2 separate regions of the Homo sapiens genome follow, and region 1 is linked to region 2. A link means that fine-mapping ties the variant in region 2 to the expression of a gene that starts in the linked region. Tissue or cell type: whole blood. Region 2 holds a variant in brackets; the other region holds the start of a gene. All regions are shown on one strand. Distances are between the middles of the regions.

Region 1 (9,221 bases), 66 kb before region 2:
TAAACTACATTTCTTCATCCTTTAGAATTAAATCCTCAGGCTGGATGTCATGGCGCACGCCTGTAATCCTGGCACTTTGGGAGGCTGAGGTAGCAGGATCACTTGTGTCCAAGAGTTCAAGACCAGCCTGGGCAACATGGGGAGACCCTGCCTCTACAAAAAATACAACAATGAGCCAGGCGTGGTGGTGTGTGCCTGTAATCCCAGCTACTCAGGAGGCTGAGATGGGTGGATCGCTTGAGACCGGAGGTTGAGGATGCGGTGAGCAGAGATTGTGCCACTGCACTCCAACCTGGACAACAGTGAGACCCTGTCTCAAAAAAAAAATTCCAAGTCTCAAACACTGGAGTGTTAAACAAACAAACACGTGGGGTGTGGTAGCTCACACCTGTAATCCCAGCACTTTGGCAGGCGGAGGTGGAAGTATTGCTTGAGCCCTGAAGTCCCAGACCAGCCTGGGCAACATGGTGAGACCTCCTCTCTATTAAAAAAATGAGAAAATGAACTGGGAGCCCAGGAGGCCGAGGTGGCAATGAGCCATGACTGGGCCACTGCACTCCTGCCTGGGTGACACAGTTGAGACCCTGTCTCAAACAAAACAAAACAAAACAAAACCCTTTCCCCACCAAAAACAAACAAAAAACCCAAACTACACGCTCTCATCCAGACCAACCAACCTAGCAGCCAATCCCAGGCAGGTCATGAACAAGCTGCAGAGCAGACAAGTCATGGAAATGTCAGTTCCATCAGCTGCAAACTGAAGCATACCCCACCGAACGGAGATACACAACCAAAAAATGGTCCTTGAAGTAAAAAATGCTACAAAAACGTCATTAACATAAAATGGCTAGTTAAGTAATGAGCACCTATTTTGTCACCATGCTGTAAGCATACTATGAGGAAGACAATTTCCTACAGGCCAGGAACTATACAAAGGTTTCTCTTTTTAAAATGAGGAGCTATAACTTAATCCCTTTTTCCCACAAACTCTCCAATTCCTCAGTATCAAGATGAGTTGTTAAATTCACAACATTTATTCTATACTTTGAGTAATGCTGTACTTGATTTATTTTAGAGATAGGGTCTCACTCTGTACCCAGGCTGGAGCAAAGTGGTGTGATCCTAGTTCACCACAGCGTCAAACTCCTGGGCTCAAGCAATTTTCTCAAGTAGCTGGAACTACTGGCATACACCACCATGCCTGGCTTATTTTTTAATTTTCTGTAGAGATAGGGTCTTGCTATGTTGCCCAGGCTGGTCTTGAACTCCTGGCCTCAAGTGATCCTCCTGCCTTGGTCTCCCAAAGTGCTGGGATTACAGGTGTGAGCCACCGCACCCAGCTCAATGCTGCACTTTAACAACAAAAGTTTATGGCTAGCTGGGGTAGCTAAAACAAACAAACAAATAAAAAATATATATAGTTTCACATAAAAATGTTTCTATATTCAATTACAAGTGTTTGGATACTTCCACAAAAAAAGTGGAAGGAATAAAATAAATAAAAGTAATTTCTACTGTTCATTAAATTACATGACTTCATTGTTGGTGATCTTTATTCAGTTTAAATAATTCAGCTCTGTTGTCTACATTAATGCATGCCTATCTTTTCACTGTAATTAACTACTGGATGCACATATTTGATTAAATGTACAAATGCCAAAGCTAACTCATAAAAGCCACCAAGAAGAAAGCCCTCCTACCAAAAGTCCTGGGTCTCTACTTATATCTAAGGTGTCCTAGTGTAGCCAGGCTGCTAATAAGACAAACAGACCATCTATCATAAAACTGGATTAATTTAAAAATCTTTCCTTAGGTTTTTGTAAGTGAAAAATAAATTATAGACAGGTTGAATTGGTAGAAATACTTCAAGGATTGTTATAAATACAGAAATGAGGTAGGATTTCAATTTTAGATAGTCTCATTCCTTAGTCAACTTTCAAAAGTGCAAGTCATTATGGAGCCAAGATTTGGATACCTGCATATTTGTTTTGCTGAAAGAAAAAAAGGTACTCATAAGACAACAGAGAGAATTTGTAGTAGATATTGTACTACATAAACATAGTCCCCCCACCCCAATAATTTTAGCAACGTCCAATTTTAAGATGCCTGGAAAAAGCGAATTACTGGTGATCACTCTAGAAGCAAAGTATAAAACTTAAATTTTTTTTCATAAAAAGAGTGACACAAGGTAAAAAAAATAAAATCACTGATTCTAATACATAAACTATGCAATAAAAATATCAAGGATTAGCAATGGTCAAGCTACTCAAAATACAATTAACTTTAAAAATGCAGATTAAAATGTATTTTAATAAAATGACGAATATGCATTGAAAAATGACCACAAAGACATAAACCAAAAATGCTGACAGTGATTATATCTGGGTCAAACAATTCCCAGTGATTTTTACTTTAGCTGTATAGTACATTTTCTACAATGACTATATGTTTTTTGGAAAAAAAAAAGAGTAGATAAATTTTTTTTTTTTAACTTTTGTGGCTTCCACTTAGGAATACATAATCCCAAACATCACAGTAAACAACCCTCAAAAACATTAATACTCTAAATATGCTCAAATGGTTTATTTGCCTTGAACATTCCACGTGGATATAAGAAAAAAATATTCTTTTACACCCTGCTAATCTCTGGCAGGAAACCAAGGCTACAGGGAAGCATCTTCTGAGTAAGAATAGCCTTTGAAAGAAACAAACCATCAGAAACACAGTGTGTGTTAAGGATGGGGCAGACAGTACAGGGTCTCTCACTGAGAGAACCATACAGTTTTTTGAAATTTTAAGAAGCTTGTTGGCAAATATTTTTAGACAATCTCCAATCCCTAGAGGCTAACCTTGGACATCATCCTTAGGTTCTTAGATGGACACGCCACACCCAAAGTGGTTGTAATGGGCTACAAAGTGGTTGTAATGAATCCATGAGAAAGCCTGCCTGCAGGCAAGCCCCAGACTTAGATGAATGTAACCTTGCTGGTGGGCGATCATTATTTGAGGAGACAGCTGGAACACGCTAACTCTAGCCTCTTCCCCCTACTAGGTGCCTAACCTGAATCTTTTTTTTTTTTTTTAATCTGTAAAATTAGACTCAAATATTACAGGGTTATCATTAACATCATCGAAGCATTAAACAAATATGAGGTATGATCAGTGAAAACAAGCAGTGGATGGGGAGCTGAGACACTGAGTCTAGTCTCAGGACTAAGATTAGCTGGTGACCTTGGGTGAAATCACTTAACCTGAGCCTCAGTTTCCTCAGGTGTAAAATCAGGATACACCCGTTCAGCAAGGATGCTGTGAGAGCATCCACCTACAACAGTGATGCTCGCAGGCCCGGGGCTGGCACCGTCGCTCTGTGGGCCTCGGCCTCTGGGTCCCCACAAGGCAGGGCTGGGACACCCGCCCGACCTCCTCCCGAACCAGAACCCCGGCTGCCCCCAGCTCCGCGGGTCTGCCCCCGACACATCCCTCCCGAAGGCCACTTGGCTTGGACACAAATCGAAACCGAAAAGCTCATGTGACACTGGAGGCAGGGATGCGGCCTCGCCCGCTCTCAGCCCAGGGAGACGCTGTCTCCACCCAACTCGGCCATCTTGAGAGGCCCGAGCAGACAAAGCGACCCCATTGTTTTGGGTGACGGCAGACGGGGACCCCTTTCCCCTCCCCGCGACCAGGAGCGGGGCGCCCTGGGGGCTCCGGGCCGGGCAGTGGGTGTGGCGAGGGCGAGCCCCGGGCGCCGCGCCGGCCTCTGCGGGGCGTCTGCGGCCCTGGGGACCCGGCCGGCGGGACGTCTGCGGCCGCCGGGCTCTGCCCATCCAGGGGTCATCTGCAGCTGCCGGGCTCCTCCCATCCCGGGGACATCTGCGACCCCGGAGGACCTGGCAGGCCCTGCATTCCGCGAGGCCTGGCTCTGGCGACCCTGCCCTCCGCGGCCCCGCACCTTTGAGCGTGGAGCGCTCCACCAGCACCGTGTGGACCTGCGGGTCCGAAAGGAACTTGCGCATCTGCTCCAGGGCGCTCTTCTCCTCCAGCGCCGCCTCCAGCGCGGCCGGCGCCTCGCCGCCGTCCTCCAGCAGCAGCGGCACCAGCTTGCGCAGGTGCTTCTGCAGCACCGACACGTCCGCCACATTCTGCACGGCCGACACTTCCAATCCGGCCGAGCCGTCCTCGCCGCCGCCGCCCCCGGGCTCCGACATGGTGTCGCGCTCGGGACCTTCCAGGAGCGATGAGAAGGCGGCCGCGACTCAGCGAGACAGCCAGCAAGAGACAGAAACGGCCGCCGGAAGCCGGACCGTCCGCTAGCCCACCGCAGACTGAGGAGAGCGGGAGCCGGCTCCGCCCTAAAGGCAGCCACTGCCAGGTGGCCCCGCCCCGCCCCGCCGGCCGCAGCCGCCGCAGCCACCCGCGCTCGCTCGCGGCCTTAGCGTCACGGCGCCGCGCGTGCGCGGGGGGCGGGCCCGGCGATGTCGCCGCGCGCCCTTCTGGGACTTGTAGTCTCGGCGCTGGTCGGGGCCCGCAGCCTCCGCACTGCGAGTCCTAGGAGATGGGGACTTGGCTCAACGTCCTGGCTCGGCGCCCGGGCTTGGCGAGGTTGGTCAGGGGCTGCGTCTGTCTTCTTCACTGCTGTGGACGCAGCGAATAGCACACAGCCAGAGAAACTTTATAGTGAATCAGTGATGTTATTGGCGAGAGCTAACGTTTAGTGAGCGCTTAGCCTGTGCCCGGCGTTGTTCTAAGCCCCTTAACCTCTCATTAAATGTTCTCTCATTGAATGAATGAATGACTACGTATCAGGTACCAAAATATAGGCACGACAGATGTGTTATTAGATATAGACCGGGAGATTGAGGATACTTTTCAGAGGGGGAGGAGATGAGGGGCGTGCTCAGAGAGTCCCATTGCCAGGCTGGAAACGGACAGCTGGGGAGGGGGCCTTCGGGGCAGTGTAAGGTTAAGCCAGGAATGACACCTTCACTGTACGTAAAGCCAAGCTGTGATGGGATCTGGTTCCTAATGACAAAAATCATTGTCCCCGAGGACGCTGTGAGGACCAAGAGGGAGACCTACTGAGAACAGCTACCTCCAGCAATGGCTCTCCTCCAGCCCCCTAGAGCTGGCACTGTCATTCTGTGGGCCTCAGTATCTGGGTCCGTACAAGGCAGGGGCTGGGTTGCCTGCCCACCAAGTTTCCCCCTAGTTCGGACCCACCACGACCTCCTCCCCTACACCATGACTACATAAGAGCCAGAATCCAGGCTGCCCAGCTGGGTGCGGTGGCTCACACCTGTAATCCTAGCATTTTGAGAGGCTGAGATGGGAGGATTGCTTGAGGCCAGAAGTTCCAAGACCAGCCTGGTCAACCTAGCGAGACCCTATATCTATGTGTATTTAAAAATTAAGAATTTTGTAAAATAATAAAAATAATAGAATCCAGGCTGCCCATCTTTGTAGTTTAGAGATGGTAGGTTCTTCTAAGGGGTAGTAATTGGCCTTTGAAAGTTCACATTCATAACTTCTTTCTTAAGTTGGGTGGAGAGAGGGAAGCCAATGGCGTTTTTTTTTTTTTTGGTTTTTTTGTTTTTTTTAAACATCAAAGTGCACTGTCAGAGTGCCGAGTCCTGATTGGTGGAATGATGATGGTATGATTTGATTCTCCCAAATCATCTTTGAAAAACTGTGAAACATACAATAAGCTTATTCCTTGCCTAATTACCGGTTGCTGGGTCCCAGGGGGTTGCTGGAACACGGAGACTAATCAGATGATTCTTGTCTTTAAGGAGCATGTGGAAGAGGGGACAGATGAATACCCCATCTTCCTGCTCTCCATCAGTCCGCCCTGGTGTGATGTGCCTAAGCAGTTCCGAGTAATCTTCCTGGAAAAAATAAATAGGCAACTGCGATGAGTTTGTGCAAGGATCCTAATGGTAATGAATAATAATAACACACCACTGACAGCGAACGCTGAGTGTTCACTGCGTGCTAGGCACCATGCAGAGGGTTTCCCCTCACATGTACTTTAGGGGTAGAAAGAGGGACAAAGAGGAAAGTCTATTAGGTGCAGATCTGTGAACTCTGAATAGGCCATCCACCATCTGAGACTCAGAAACCTGCAGGGACCTGGCCGATGGGCAGGCTGCATGCTGGCTGCACCATGAGTCAGCACCAGACTGGGAGACGCAGCCACTCAGGGATCCAAGGGACTCAAACATCTGCAACCTGGCCCCAGGCCAAGAGAACAAACTGCAGGCTCCGGATTTGCGGCCCTGTAGGATAGGCTCAAAATGAAACATGTTTGTTATTTCTAAGTGGATGGGAACTGAAAGAACCCGAACAATCAGTGTACAAGGATTCATGAATGGACCAAACATGCTTGCTTTTTGTTCTTGAAAGATGTTTGTTGTATTTAATATATAACGAGAAGAGTGGTCAACGCTGACTGGGTGCTGAGCACTTTAAGTGCATTACCTGGGTGGCTGGCTGGGCTGTGCCAGGGTTGAAGGGTGTGGGGAGCTTCTTTCAAGGTGCCCCTTCTGCCTCCTGGCACAGGACTCTGGCTCCAGCACACCCCAAGCTGACCCTGGTGGGGGTAGGGCCCCTCACCCAAACCTGGCCTCTCCCGTCTCTTGTTCTGCTGCCTCAGCTTTCTCCTGTCTGTGGTAGAGTCTGCTTGGACAGACTCTGGGCAGGGCAGGGGGCAGGGCAAGCTGGAGAGAGAATTCGTTCTAGGTTGATGTGGGATGATAGTGGCTGGTAGGGCGCTTGTATCCTATTGGAAATCCATGATGAGATCCCATTCATTCCCACCCTTCTCTTAACAATGTCTCCTTAAGTCCAAGTCTCAAGTCGGGTGCCCAGTTTCATACCATCCTTCCTCTCCCTCTCACAACCTTCGGGCAGGACCAACCCCCTCAGAGGAACCCCTGCTGCCCCAGCCCTTTCAGGCTCTGTGCCCAGGATCTCCCCTCCACTCCCTGGAAATTCCACATTTGGCCAGGTGTGGTGGTGCACACCCTTGTTCCCAGCTACTCAAAAGGTTGAGGTGGAGGTCGAGGCTGCAGTGAGCTGTGATCTCACTACTGCACTCCAGCCTGTGCAAGAGAGTGAGACCCCGTCTCTAAATAATAATAATAATAATAATAATAATAATAATAATAAATTTAAAGAAAAAGAATTTCCATCTTGGGCTCATTCGTTCATTCATTCATCCCCACTTGTGAGAGCAGGGAGGTCTAAGCTTCTCGGGATTCTCAGCACCAGCGGGGCCTGGACCAAAGCGTGCACTTGGTTGGTGGGTGTGAAACTAATGCCTTACCCCGAGGAAGGGGCGCTGGCGGTGGCCGTGGGGACACGGGGTGCACTGTGGATCAAGACCTTCCTGGCCACATCTCTGGGGCTGTCAGGGTGCTGCTGGAGGGCAAGGCTGGGACTTCACAGGTTCGCAGGGCTGCAGGACGCTTTCTGAGGAAGCTCATTCCAGGATCCACCCCCTTTCTGTCTTGATTCCTTGTCAAATGAGCCTCAGGGTGAGGCTTGAACCAGATCTGGTTCCTGGAGGCTTCGACCCCAGCAGGTTGGAGTTTGAAGCGCGTGGTGAGAACGGAACGGTCTCTTGGCGCCGTCTAGTGGCAGCAAAGGATGTGTCGCATGGAATTTTCTTCTGCTTGTAGGGGACCCACCTCCCCAGCCTGCTGCCCATCCATCCTGGTGACAGCAGGCTCACCTGCCCAAGGTCACCTGGCTTGCTTGTCCAGGGTCACAGAACAAGTAATGACAATGAAAATGCCAGCATGCACCCCACTGCCCATGGGGAAGATGTTAGTGAATCTTGTCTCTACCTGGGCAGACAATTCCCACCTGGCTCTCCTGACCCCTGGATTAACCCAGGCTGCCTGCAGACCCTCAAAACCTCTGACACCGCCCTGGCCCTTCCCTCTGGTAGTGTGTGGCCCCTTCTCTTACCAAAGGCTGTCGGTGTCCCCAGCCAGGACCACTACTCCCTGGGTGTGCTGCCTCCATCTCCTCTCAGGGTTATCACCTCTGAAATTCTCCCCTCGCTCCCAGATGTTCTCTCTCTCTCCTAGATTTTTTCCACCGATGTCTGAGCTATTCTATCCCTTCTTTAAAGGAAAAGAAGGAAGCCCTACCGTAGCCCACTGCCAGCACCTCTCCACTGCTTTGCTGCCCTTTCCAGCAAAACTCCTTGAGAATAAGCATATGTGGGCACTGCCTTTCCCACCCCATCCCCACATTCATGGGCAGGCACTCTTGGCAAGGTCACCAGTGACTTCCGCGTGGCCAAATCCAGTGACTAGTTCTCAGTCCTCATCTTGCTTGACCCGTGGACACACTGATGCAGCCGGCACTCCCTCCTTCTCTGAACACCACCTTCACCTGGCTTTTGGTGGCCGCACTCTCCAGATCCTCCTCGTCACCAAGGTTCCTTCTCAGTCTCCTCTGCTGGATCCTGCTCTTCGCGACCTCTGAAGGTTGGAGGGGCCCAAGGCTTGGCCCTCAGGCTGGTTTGTGTTCTATCAGCACGCCCTCTCCAGCGCCCTCTAGCCTTGGATTTTCTTTTTTCTTTCTTTCTTTTCTTTCTTTTTTTTTTTTTTGAGATGGAGTTTCGCTCTTGTTGCCCAGGCTGGAGTGCAATGGCTCGATCTCCGCTCATCGCAACCTCTGCCTCCCGAGTTCAAGCGATTCTCCTGCCTCAGCCTCCCAAGTAGCTGGAATTATAGGCATGTGCCACCACACGTGGCTAATTTTGTATTTTTAGTAGAAACGGGGTTTCTCCATGTTGGTCAGGCTGGTCTCGAGCTCCCGACCTCAGGTGATCCGCCCGCCTCAGTCTCCCAAAGTGCTGGGATAACAGGTGTGAGCCACCGCACCCGGCCCTTTTCTTTTTTTTTTTTTGAGACAGGATCTCACTCTGTCAACCTAGCTGGAGTGCAGTGGCACAATCGTGGCTCACTGCAGCCTCGACCTCCCTCCCAGCCTCAAATAATCCTCCCACCTCAGCCTCCTGAGTAGCTGGGACTACAGGCACATGCCACCACACCTAGGTAATTTTTGTTTGCTTGTTATTTTTTGTAGAGATGAGGTTTTGCCAAGTTTCTCAGTCTGGTCTCAAATTCCTGGGCTCAAGGAGCCTCCTGCCTCAGCCTCCCAGAGTTCTGGGATTACAGGCATGAGCCACTATCCCCACCCAAGCC
Region 2 (10,959 bases):
GCTGAAGGCCTGAGTGGGTCCTGGCACTGAACTCCCTCATCAGAGGCATGGCAGGCCGCCCTGGCAGCCTTCATGCTCTGTTCCTGGCAGGGACGTGAAGGCTTCTGTGACATGTGGAGTGGCACCCAAGCCACTGGCAGCTGCGCGGCCACCTTGGCTCTGCTTTCCCCACCTGGACTTCCCTTCCTCCTTGCCCTGTCACATGCTTTTATGCAAAACAGCACATTGTGAGTCCACTTGTCCCTGTCTTCTCTTGAAGGTCTAACGTTACCCATAGCGATAGCTAATTTTGCATCTGGGGAAGGGGCTCAAGTTTTTGGGACACTTCCCACGACTGCCAGTCTCTCCTTGGCATACGAACGCCCTGTACTTCAGCCAGGGCTCCGTGGCGCTGGTCTCTACAGTTTCTAGGAAACCATGCTCCTTTGTGCAAAGTGCTCACACTGAAAGCCTTGAGAAACATTATTTTCTCTGTAGGCCAGGATTGATGAAAAAAAAAAAAAAAAAACCCAAAACATAATTTTCCTTTCTTAGTTCCTAATGTGAAAACTCATTGGAATTTATAAAATGAAAATAACCTGAATATTTGTATGGAAGAGACTACACCACAGCAGTTCCTTCCTTTAACCCGACTCAGCCTGGCCTCACTTTACTATGGCTGCCCGTGCTCCAGAGCTTCTTACTCTTCTATCACTTGCCTTCTTGTCTTAGTTTTGTTGGTTTCAATGATCTCTTTCCAAAACCATCTTGAAAGGCTCAGTTTGGAGGACCCCTCATTCTTGTGGACTTTTTCTAACCACTTAGACTTGTGCTAAGGTAACTGCCCATGTGTTTCTGAGAGCCTGCTGCACACGCCACCTGGCCCTTCACGTTTGGCTGTAAGGTGGTGGTGTGACATGGTCACTCTCTTCCACTGTGTGGCCTGCTCCCTGGGCACCGGGAGGTCTTGCTTATTTTGTGCCTATTTTCACCTTGTTCATGATGAGTGCACAATAAAATCCGCTCAATGATGCAAAAGGACAGGTGGCTAGCACGTCCAACAGAGGCAGGCAGGCTGGGAAGGTGTGTGGGGGTGGCCTTCAAAAGAGGTGATGAGCCGAGGCTGGCTTGAAGGGTTAAGGAAATTGGGAAAAGAAAGTAGAAAGTAGCTCTGACCAAGGTCGTCCTCTCGCACAGGAATTTGGCAGTGACAAAAGTCAGAGCTCTCAGCCTTTTTGAAAGGGTAAAGGGAGACAGATTTACACAGTGTCAGGAACGAAGGGCCTCGGCAGCAAGAGCATCTCAGAGCCGAGGCTTTGGCCACCCGTTGTCTATCAATATTGATGCTCAGGTGTGGAAAGGAGGGTGTTTATGAACTTGGAAGCACACTGAACATGAAGATAAAGACAGCTTTACAGAGAAGCCAGATGACTGCTCTTAGTGAGAAAAAGTATCGCGGCAGAAGGGACAAGATGCTCAAGGGTATTCTATAGAATTCAAGTTACAGCATCGTATTTGAAGTATAATTCAAGTAAAAACTTGGATTTTACCTTTAAATTGCATGAGAGGCAAAGCATGGCCAGCTACGCATGGAACTTTTCCTTTCCCAAATGAACACTGGAAGAATTTAATCAGGTCCCCCAAGCCCCACATACCTGGAAGTGTGGGCTGGAGACACATTTGGCCAACTGCCGGAAGAGGGGTTCCATGATCTTCACAAATTCTGATGGTTCAATGACATCTAAAATCTCTTCTAATTCGTTTAAGAACATTACTTCTTTTGGACTGTGAGTCTTTGGCCAGTATTTGAGAAGTGCCATCACCACCTACAAAAGAAATGACACGTGGAGTGACTGATGCCCACGAGGCCCCAACACCTGCATGGTAAGAAGTCTGTGTTTTCACTGCGGTGGCCCCACTGCAAGGCAACACACGGAGATGGTGCCATCTTCCTTACAGAGGGAACAGTGACTCAGTCATCATATGTGATTTTCTGTATTTGAGAAGTAGGTCTGTCTGTCTGGTTATCTATCTGATCAATCAATTTATTTAGAGATGGGTCACATTATGTTGTCCAGGCTGGACTTGAACTCCTTGGCTCAAGTGATCCTCCTCTTTCAGCCTCTGAGTAGCTGGGACCACAGGCACGTACCACCTGCCTGGCTTAATTTTATACACTTCAGAAATTACACAATTTTAGTTTATATAACCCACTTTCTCTGATCAAACACCATTTCAGTAAGAGTCCATTCCTTTTTTTAAAAAAAGAAAAAAAAATAAGAAGTTAGGACAATAATTTAGAAAGAATAAGATCAACGGAGAAAACACAGAGCATTATCAATTCATGTGTACATTTTAGTTGTGGAAGCAGCCAGTACTGAAACTGTGGGCCACGTGTACACAACCCATTTCTTTCTCAAATTTATCAACCATCCATATGTGTTTATACACAAACACACATACTTCTGTATGCATAGACAGTGTTTTCAACTGTGTTAAAATATATCAAAAGGAGTGATGTGAATTAAGCTGACCTTATTAACTCACATCCACAGGTACTGCGATGGGACCTCCCGGGCAGGGCGTACTGTGCTCTCTGTGCGCACACCTGTGGGCGTCAGATACAACAGCCTGAGCAGTGCTGGGCCTGCGGTGAGCAGGCTGCAGTGGCAGCTGTAGCCAGGATTGTCACCACCCAGAGGGTCTGTGCCACCAGCTCTCTGCCAGGCACAGCCCGTCGGACTGCAGTGGTTTCCCAGTTTGTGGATAGTGGATGTTTTATGTTCCTTGGCCAAGTCAGACAGCTAGAAAGAATTTCCACTGGGCAACCTTTCTTTATATGTTCCTGTAGTTTCCAAATGTCTTACCACAATCATACCAGTACAAAATACTGAATGTGAATCCATGCAGATTTCATAATATTTTTAGAGTTTAGCCATCTTAGTTCTAAAAGAGTACAACAATCCAAAACAGGCATTTGCATATGAAGTGCATATATGTGCTTACACACTGAATTGTACAAGTGCAATCCGGTGCGTTAGAGCAGCTCTTTGGCCTCGTCACAGCAACACCGCGGGGCTTCTACCCGACTCTTGTGCTGTGCAATTGCCACAAGTGCTGGCCCCCGGGACCGCCTGGTCGTTTTCACTCACTAGTCATTTCCAGCTCAGTAGATCGCACCAACTCATGGCTTAGCAGGCCAGCCTTTTAGTCATTACAGTGATTTTTTAAAAAGGTGGACATTTAACATCCATTTAGAAAAATTTTGTTTTGATGCTTTGGCATTTGGGCTCCCAGGTAATCTTTTATGATATTACACTTTATAAAACTCCAAAATTCATGAAACAAAGGAAAGTAAGGCTGGGCGTGGTGGCTCACGCATGTAATCTCAGGACTTTGGGAGGTCGAGGTGGGAGGAATGCTTGAGCCCAGGAGTTCGAGACCGACCTGGGCACCGTGGTGAGGTCCTGTCTCTACACAAAATTTAAAAATTAGCCTGGTGTGGTGATGGGCACCTGTGGTCCTAGCTACTCGAGAGGCTAAGGTGGGAGGATTGCTTGAGCCCAGGAGGTTGAGGCTGCAGTGAGCCATGACTGCGCCACTGTACTCCAAGAATCTAACAAACAAACAAAAACCCCAAAAGAGCCAAATAAAAATAAAAAAGGAAGTGCTGCTAGTTTTCAAGTCTGACATAAAAATCTACCATACAAGTGTCTTTAAAAGGAATTATTTCTAAAAATGCATCATTTAATGGTTCTCCTAGCTCAAAACTATTGAATAAGTATTTATTGTGTTCCTACCACACTTTGCGTGTATTGGAATCACTATTAAGGACACAGCAGATGGAAATCACTTCCTACATCTATTTCTCTTCATTTGTCAAATGGAATTTTATTAGGAGAAATATGTTAATTTGTGAACTATACAACACAACCGATTTAGCTATTCCATTTCTCTGGAAAAGGTATCATTTCTGGGATCGGATTCACACACGGGCCTTCCTGTTCACATTGTTTGGAATGAGCTGTGATCGGTATCAGCTATTTTGCTGCGTCAGTGTGGCGTGCTCTGTGGAGGAGGGTGTCTACTCAGGGAATGTGAATCCGAGGCAACAATGGCTGTGTGCTGCTGGGTGCAGCACAAGGCCCCGAGTTTTCCTTTGGAAGCCCAAGGACTGCCCGCTCCCTGCAGAGGGCAGGCGAGCCAGTGGCCCCAGCCTTGAGTCTTGGGGAGCCCCCTTCCTGTCCTGGTAGACCAAGGAGAAAGGAGAGCCGCTACTATGCCATGTAGTAAAATGTGATGAGACTGAAGAGGCAGGTGGGTGAAAACGGAACACAGTTTTACTTCTGTAAAATCTCTGATGAGCTTTTGTTATTCTTCCAACAGAGAAAGTGTTTCATGTGCCCAGAAAGCTTTTGAGCACTGTACACAATTAGCAAATGAAAAATACTAATTACAGGCTACAAATGGGGCAACACATGTCCTTCATATCTCAGTCTTCTAAGTGGATCTTACTTTAAACATTCCTGAGCCTGGACATTTGATGGCTTCAGGAGTCCCTTTGGTGCAGGCCTGGGAGATGGACGTGGACACCAGGTGTCCTTAGTGCTACCAAGAGATGTACACCTGCACCAAAGCCTATACTTTGATCATCTCATTAACAAGCTTTCAATGCTGAAATAAGACAAAATGGCCTTTGTGTTTTCATAAATAGGCATTTCAAAAGAGGGAATTTACTGACATGAGGGTCTGAATGTTCTTAACATGTAGGAAATTGAATCTGCTTTCTAAAGCCAGGACGGTACTATTACATTATCTGTGCAGCAGGAAACTAAGCAATGAAGTGTCCCCGGGTGGGAACATCGGGGCCTAGGTTGGTGGGGTTTGCACCTCCTTTGTGCTGGTGCCAAGTCAGAGTCCTGCATGTAACATTTACGCCGGAAGGACCCAACTGAAGCCGGCACGGGGTCTCTTGCCCTCTTTTAGACAGGACTGCAATTAACAGCTCTCACTCTTGCAAAGTGATATTCACTTTATTTACTATATTAGTGGGAATTAAAAACTTTTACAAACATTCTCTGCTTTTGTGTTACTTTTCGGTGGAAGAGAGAATAGGGTGAGGCTCATTCACCGAGCCCTCGGTGGAGAAGGTTAGGGTCAGGCTGACAGACAGTGGATGGCGGGATAGAGATGCTGGGACAGTGGCTTAGGTGGGAGCAGCCTCTGTCTGTGGTAAACGCAATGTGGCATTTGGTGAATTGTTCAGCCACTACAGGATATGAGAAATACGCACAAAGAAAATTCATGAAAGAAAAATA[C/T]ATACTTTCAAAAATCTCTCCTTCCATAGCTTTTTTTCCCTTCCATTTGTATTTACTTATTTATTTGAGACAGGGTCTTACTCTGTCACTCAGGATGGAGTGAAGTTGGTGCGTTCATAGCTCACTGCAGCCTTGACCCCCTGGGCTCAAACAACTCTTCCACCTCGGCCTCTCGAGTAGCTGGGACCACAGGTACATGTCACCATGCCCAGCTAATTAAATTTTTTTTTTTTTGGTAGAGAGGAGGTCTCACTATGTTTCCCAGGCTGGTCTCAAACTCCTGGCTTCAAGGGCTCCTCCTGCCTTGGCCTCCCAAAGTGCTGGGATTAGGGGCATGAGCCACTGTGCCCAGTTGTCTTTTATTTTTGAATAGGAAAAGGTGGGAGAGGAGGGGAGAGATAAATTTTTTTTTTTTTTTTACATATTACTTTCTCCAGTAAAACCTCTGTGATAGTTAATACTCAGTGTCAACTTGTTTGGATTGAAGGATGCACTGGGTGTGCCTGTGAGGGTGTTGCAAAAGGAGATTAACATGTGAGTCAGTGGGCTAGGAAAGGCAGACCCACCCTTAATGGGGGTGGGCACCACCTAAGCTGCCAGAGAGGCCAGAATATAAAGCAGGCAGAAGAACGTGAAAAGACTAGACTGGCCTAGCCTCCCAGCCTGCATCTTTCTCCCGTGCCGGACGCTTCCTGCCCTCGAACATCGGAATCCAAGTTCCTCAGCTTTGGAACGGGCCTGGCTTCCCTGCTCCTCAGCTTGCAGACGGGCTATTGTGGGACCTGGGTGACAGAGCGAGATCCTGTCTCAAAAAAAAAAAAAAATACAACCTCTCACCCTTCAGTTTGGAGAATACCTCAGATATAGGCAGAAGAGTTAGGGCATGTAACCACTGGAGAAAATACAGTTTAAAAAAAAAATCCCCAATGAGTTTTATTAACACTGTTCATTTTTCTTTTTCCTACCTAAACATGTCTTCAGTCGTTAAGAAGGATAAAAATAACACCTCCTCACCCTAAGCCTTGACTATGCTTGATGCTGAAGTGTGATGAGATTTGGTACATTTCCTTGGGAGGTCCCCAAAATCTCAGGCGGAGGTATCTAGGGGCTGGAGGGAGAGTGTGCAGGGATGCGTCCTTCCACGAGGGCCCGGCAGGACAGGGCGGGCCCAGCTCGTGGCTCTGTAGCACCTGCTACCTCTGCAGTCATAGGACAAGAGCTCTTCTTGAATTTTGTGGGTGAAATGGAGGGAATCTACACATAGAATTTAAAAACTTACAAGAAAGCAGAGCCCAAAAGCCAGTTTAACTCAGAAATTCAATGTTAAGAATTTCTCATGCAATTTCACTATAAAAATTACAACTTCACAAAAGAACTGTGAAAGAGAGAAAGGGCCCAGGAGTGACAAGATCTACTTTTTCTAGTCTAACAGTGACTTTTAAAAGAGCATTCAAACATTTGAATTGGTTCCTAACATTCCTTACTTTGATACTCAAATAATTAAAAAAAAACTCCAATGTAAAAAATGGGCAATGGATTTAAATGGACATTTCTGCAAAGAAGATATACACTTTTTTTTTTTTTTTTTTTGGAGACAGGGTTTCACTGTGTTGCCCAGGCACACGCCATCATGCCTGGCTAATTTTTGTATTTTTTGTAGAGATGGGATTTTGCCATATTGCCCAGGCTGGTCTCCAACTCTTGGGCTCAAGTGATTCACCCGCCTCAGCCTCCCAAAGTGTTGGGACTACAGGCGTGAGCCACCGCGCCCGGCCAAGAAGATATACAGATTTTGGTCAACAAGCGCTGAAAAGATGCTCAACATCATCAGTCATTAGGGAACTGCAAATCAAAACCACAACAAGATACTCTTTCACACCACTAGGATGGCTATAATTAAAACAACAGGTCGGGTGTGGTGGCTTACGCCTGTTATCCTAGCACTTTGGGAGGCTGAGGCGGGTGGATCACTTGAGGTCAGGAGTTTGAGACCAGCCTGGCCAACATGGTGAAACTCTGTCTCTAATAAAAATGCAAAAATTAGCCGGGCATGGTGGCAGGCACCTGTAATCCCAGCTACTTGGGAGGCTGAGATAGGAGAATCGCTTGAACCCAGGAGGCAGAGGTTGTGGTGAGCCAAGATTGCACCATTGCACTCCAGCCTGGGTGACAGAGTGAGACTTTCTCTCAAAAAAATAAGATAAAATAAAATAAATAAAAAGAAAGCAACAGCAGCAGCAGCAGCATCAGCACTGGTGAGAATGTGGGGAGATGGGAGCCTTTGTGCATTGCTGCAGGGAATGTAAAACGGGACAGTCACTGTGGAAAACAGTATGGGGGTCTGTCCCGCAGCTAAACATACAATTACCATATGATTCAGCAATTCCACTCCTGGATATATATCCAAAGGAACTGAAAATGGGGATTATAGCAAATATTTGTACACCAGTATCCAAATAGCAGCATTATTCACAATAGCTAAAAGGTGGGAACAACCCAGGTGTACACTGAAAAAACAATGAATAAACCCAATGTGTTCTATCCATATGATAGAACAGCATTCAACCATGATGAGGAATGAAGTTCTGATACGCAACCCAAGAATGAGCCCTGGAAGACATTACGCTGAGTGAAATAAGCCAGGTGTGAAAGGACAAGCGTTTTATGATTCTCCTTATATAAGGTACCTAGAATAGTCAAATTCAGAGATAAAGTAGATTACAGGTCAGCAGGGGCCAGAGGGAGGGAGAACGGAGAGTTATTGTTTAATGGGTAGAATTTCTGTTTGGGATGATGACAAAGCTTTGGAAATAGTGGTGATGGTTGCGCAACACTATGAATGTCATTAACGCTGGTGAACTGTACATTTAACGCGGTTAAAATGACAAATTTTATGTTATATGTATTTTACCACAATTTAAAAAAATTCAAAATGTAACGTATCAAAAATTTTTGAATTGTACTCTTTAAATGGGTGAATTGTGTGGTATGTGAATTATATCTCAATAAAGTTGTTTCAAAAAATGTATTTAAATGCTTAAACTGGCACCTGACATGTCTGGCTTTGTTAACCCTGGCTATGATAGCCTATTTTAATAAACATAAAATGTTAAGAAAATTATAAATCCTCTGACATAATTATGGAGGCTGAAAAAAAATTACAGATCCACGCACAGAACAGCAGTAATCTAACGTTCACTTGTGATTCAATGATCATAAAATAGTTACAGTGTAACTTGGGAAGTATTTTCAAGGCGGTAAAGCCTCTTTAGTACAACAATAATTTCAAACCCTAACTATAATTCCTCTGATCATAATCAGTTCAATATGTTGTCAAACCAAGCAGATGTGAAACTACTGAATTGCACACTAAAATTTAGTGGCTACAATAACCGCTCAAGTGCTTTACGTTCAAACAGTAAAGTGCAACGAGGGACAAGGTGGCAATCTCATTACATAAAATAATCACTATAATAAAGGAATCTGCAATTAAAATGACTATACTTTGAAAACCTATAACCCATGAATGAAATGAGCCTGTTTATTAGTATTGCAATTTAAGATGAAAAAGTCTGAATGAATGGCAATTTGGTGAAGCAGATGTTGTAATATTTACATTTAGTGAAATGCACACATCTTACAAGACGCGCTAGCATCAGTACTTACTGGTTCCGTGAGGGTGCTGTCCTTTTCTAAAAACTGCACTACACAGTATGCCAGCTAAAAAGTAAAAGGAGAAAGAGCATTAACATTTCAACATAAAAATGCTGCTGTGCTTCTTCTAGAATCATCGTTAAACACCTTCCCACAGCAAGACAAGGACCCACGGTACAGACAAAGCCCTTGTGTGATTAACGGGCATTAACATTTATGCCCATTAATTGGTGATAGATCAGAAAGCTGAAAAATAAAAATAAGAAAAATAAATCAGGAAACAGTCTTTTTAGTCTAACCACCGCTAAGTCAATCCAGTATGATGGGATTTTCTTGGGGTCCTTGTGCAGACTACAATCAACGAGTCATCTAACAGTGGGGAACAACAAATTAAAATCTGGTTCCATCTTAAATCTCTGAACTATTAATTTCTTTTGTACAACAATATGATAATCTGGCTGGATGCAAAGATATTACCAGTTAAGAGCAGTCAGAGAAAATAAATATGTTCTAGGAAGAATCAATTAAAGAATATACTTTTTGTCATTTAGCCCCTACCATAAGCTCTGAAAGTGGGGCCTGGCAGAGAGGAGCCTTGTGCACCCCTGTGCCTGTGCTGGGGCGTGACTGCTCAGTGCCTGGCCCTGTGACAGCCGGAAGTGAACAAAGACGCCCACTGCAGCCAAAGAGTGAGAGAAAACCAAATCCAGGTAAATGCAGTCCATTAACCACTTATTGACCAATTTTTCAGTACAGCTGTACTTAGATTACTACAGTTTAAAAAATTCACAGCTTTATTCATTCATTTATTTATTTATTTTTGAGATGGAGTTTCACTCTTGTTGCCCAGGCTGGAGTGCAATGGCGCGATCTCGGCTCACTGCAACCTCCGCCTCCCGGGTTCAAGCGATTCTCCTGCCTCAGCCTCCTGAGGAGCTGGGATTACAGGCATGTGCCACCATGCCCGGCTAGTTTTGTATTTTAAGTAGAGACGGTTTTCTCCATGTTGGTCAGGCTGGTCTTGAACTCCCAACCTCAGGTGATCTGTCCGCCTCAGCCTCCCAAAGTGCTGGGATTATAGGCAGCTTTATTTTTTTAAAAAACGTTTTCATAGGCCATTCATTGGCCATGGACCTATATAGGCTTTTCTCTTTAAGGTACTGAATTTTAGATTACACTACAGAAAACTCCTCTCAGAAGTCTTCCTAGACTCCTTTCAGAGAGTTACTCCTTTCTCAATGCTTAAAACTGAAAAATTCTGTATTACAGAGATTTTTCTGAATTTCTTAAAAGGAATCTCTCTTTACCCCCTTATTCTTTCGATTATCACCAGAAGTTTGTTACCAAAGTTAGTACAGGCCTATAAAGAAGAAAGCACTCTCAGTCAAGGCCGGATTCACTATCTCGTGTTCAATCCTGATCAAATGCCAACAGCTGTGTTCCTAGAGTCCTGCTGCCCCTTACCTGGGGATGGTAGACACTCAGAGATTTCACTTTGTGCAAAGGTAGTAACACCTTCAATAAGAAAATCTTGTGCTCTTCTTTTAGTGGTAAGGCAAATCCATTAATTATACTGTAAAAAGAACATTTATTAGGTTTGAACATTTACGAATTCCAGGTTTTAAACAAATATCTTGCCGTCTTTCAATTTTTGTTTTCACCATCAAAACCCAGCAGGCAAAATATACGTAGCCAAGCATGTTGCCATGCACCTGTGCCCCAGCTAACTTGGGAGGCTGAGGCGGCAGGATCATCTGAACCCGGAGTTCGAGGCTGTAGTGCGCTATAATCACACCTGTGAAGAGCCACTGTTCTCTAGCCTGGGTAGTATAGCGAGATCCTATATAGGGGTCTGTGGAACACTTCATATAGTGCTCCGGTCCCTGCAACAGCCTAAGAGGGAAATCCGAGGATTCTTCCTATATATATACATATGTGTGTGTGTATGTGTGTGTGTATCAGAAAAAAGAGGATACCAGCAAAAAGTTTAAAAATGCTAAATGCCTAC

The links. PIP is the estimated chance that this variant, and not a neighbour inherited with it, causes the effect.
Region 1: DYNC1H1 starts here. The variant in region 2 is fine-mapped to the expression of DYNC1H1 in whole blood (TOPMed, PIP 0.98).

Annotation. Positions count from the first base shown.
Region 1 is chr14:101,959,679-101,968,899 of GRCh38, reverse strand. It overlaps DYNC1H1 (dynein cytoplasmic 1 heavy chain 1), which reads right to left and starts at 4,327. Exons shown (of 78, transcript NM_001376.5): 1 at 3,953-4,327. The coding sequence starts at 4,208. RefSeq lists silencers at 3,635-3,844, 4,335-4,494, 7,439-7,615 and enhancers at 3,370-3,979, 3,980-4,590, 4,635-4,774, 7,457-7,516.
Region 2 is chr14:101,892,565-101,903,523 of GRCh38, reverse strand. It overlaps PPP2R5C (protein phosphatase 2 regulatory subunit B'gamma), which reads right to left. Exons shown (of 16, transcript NM_001352913.2): 9 at 10,416-10,524; 10 at 8,964-9,017; 11 at 1,635-1,805. Among named protein-coding and RNA genes, the nearest start is that of DYNC1H1, 67 kb to the left of the region's middle. The variant C/T (reference allele first, on the strand shown) is at 5,298.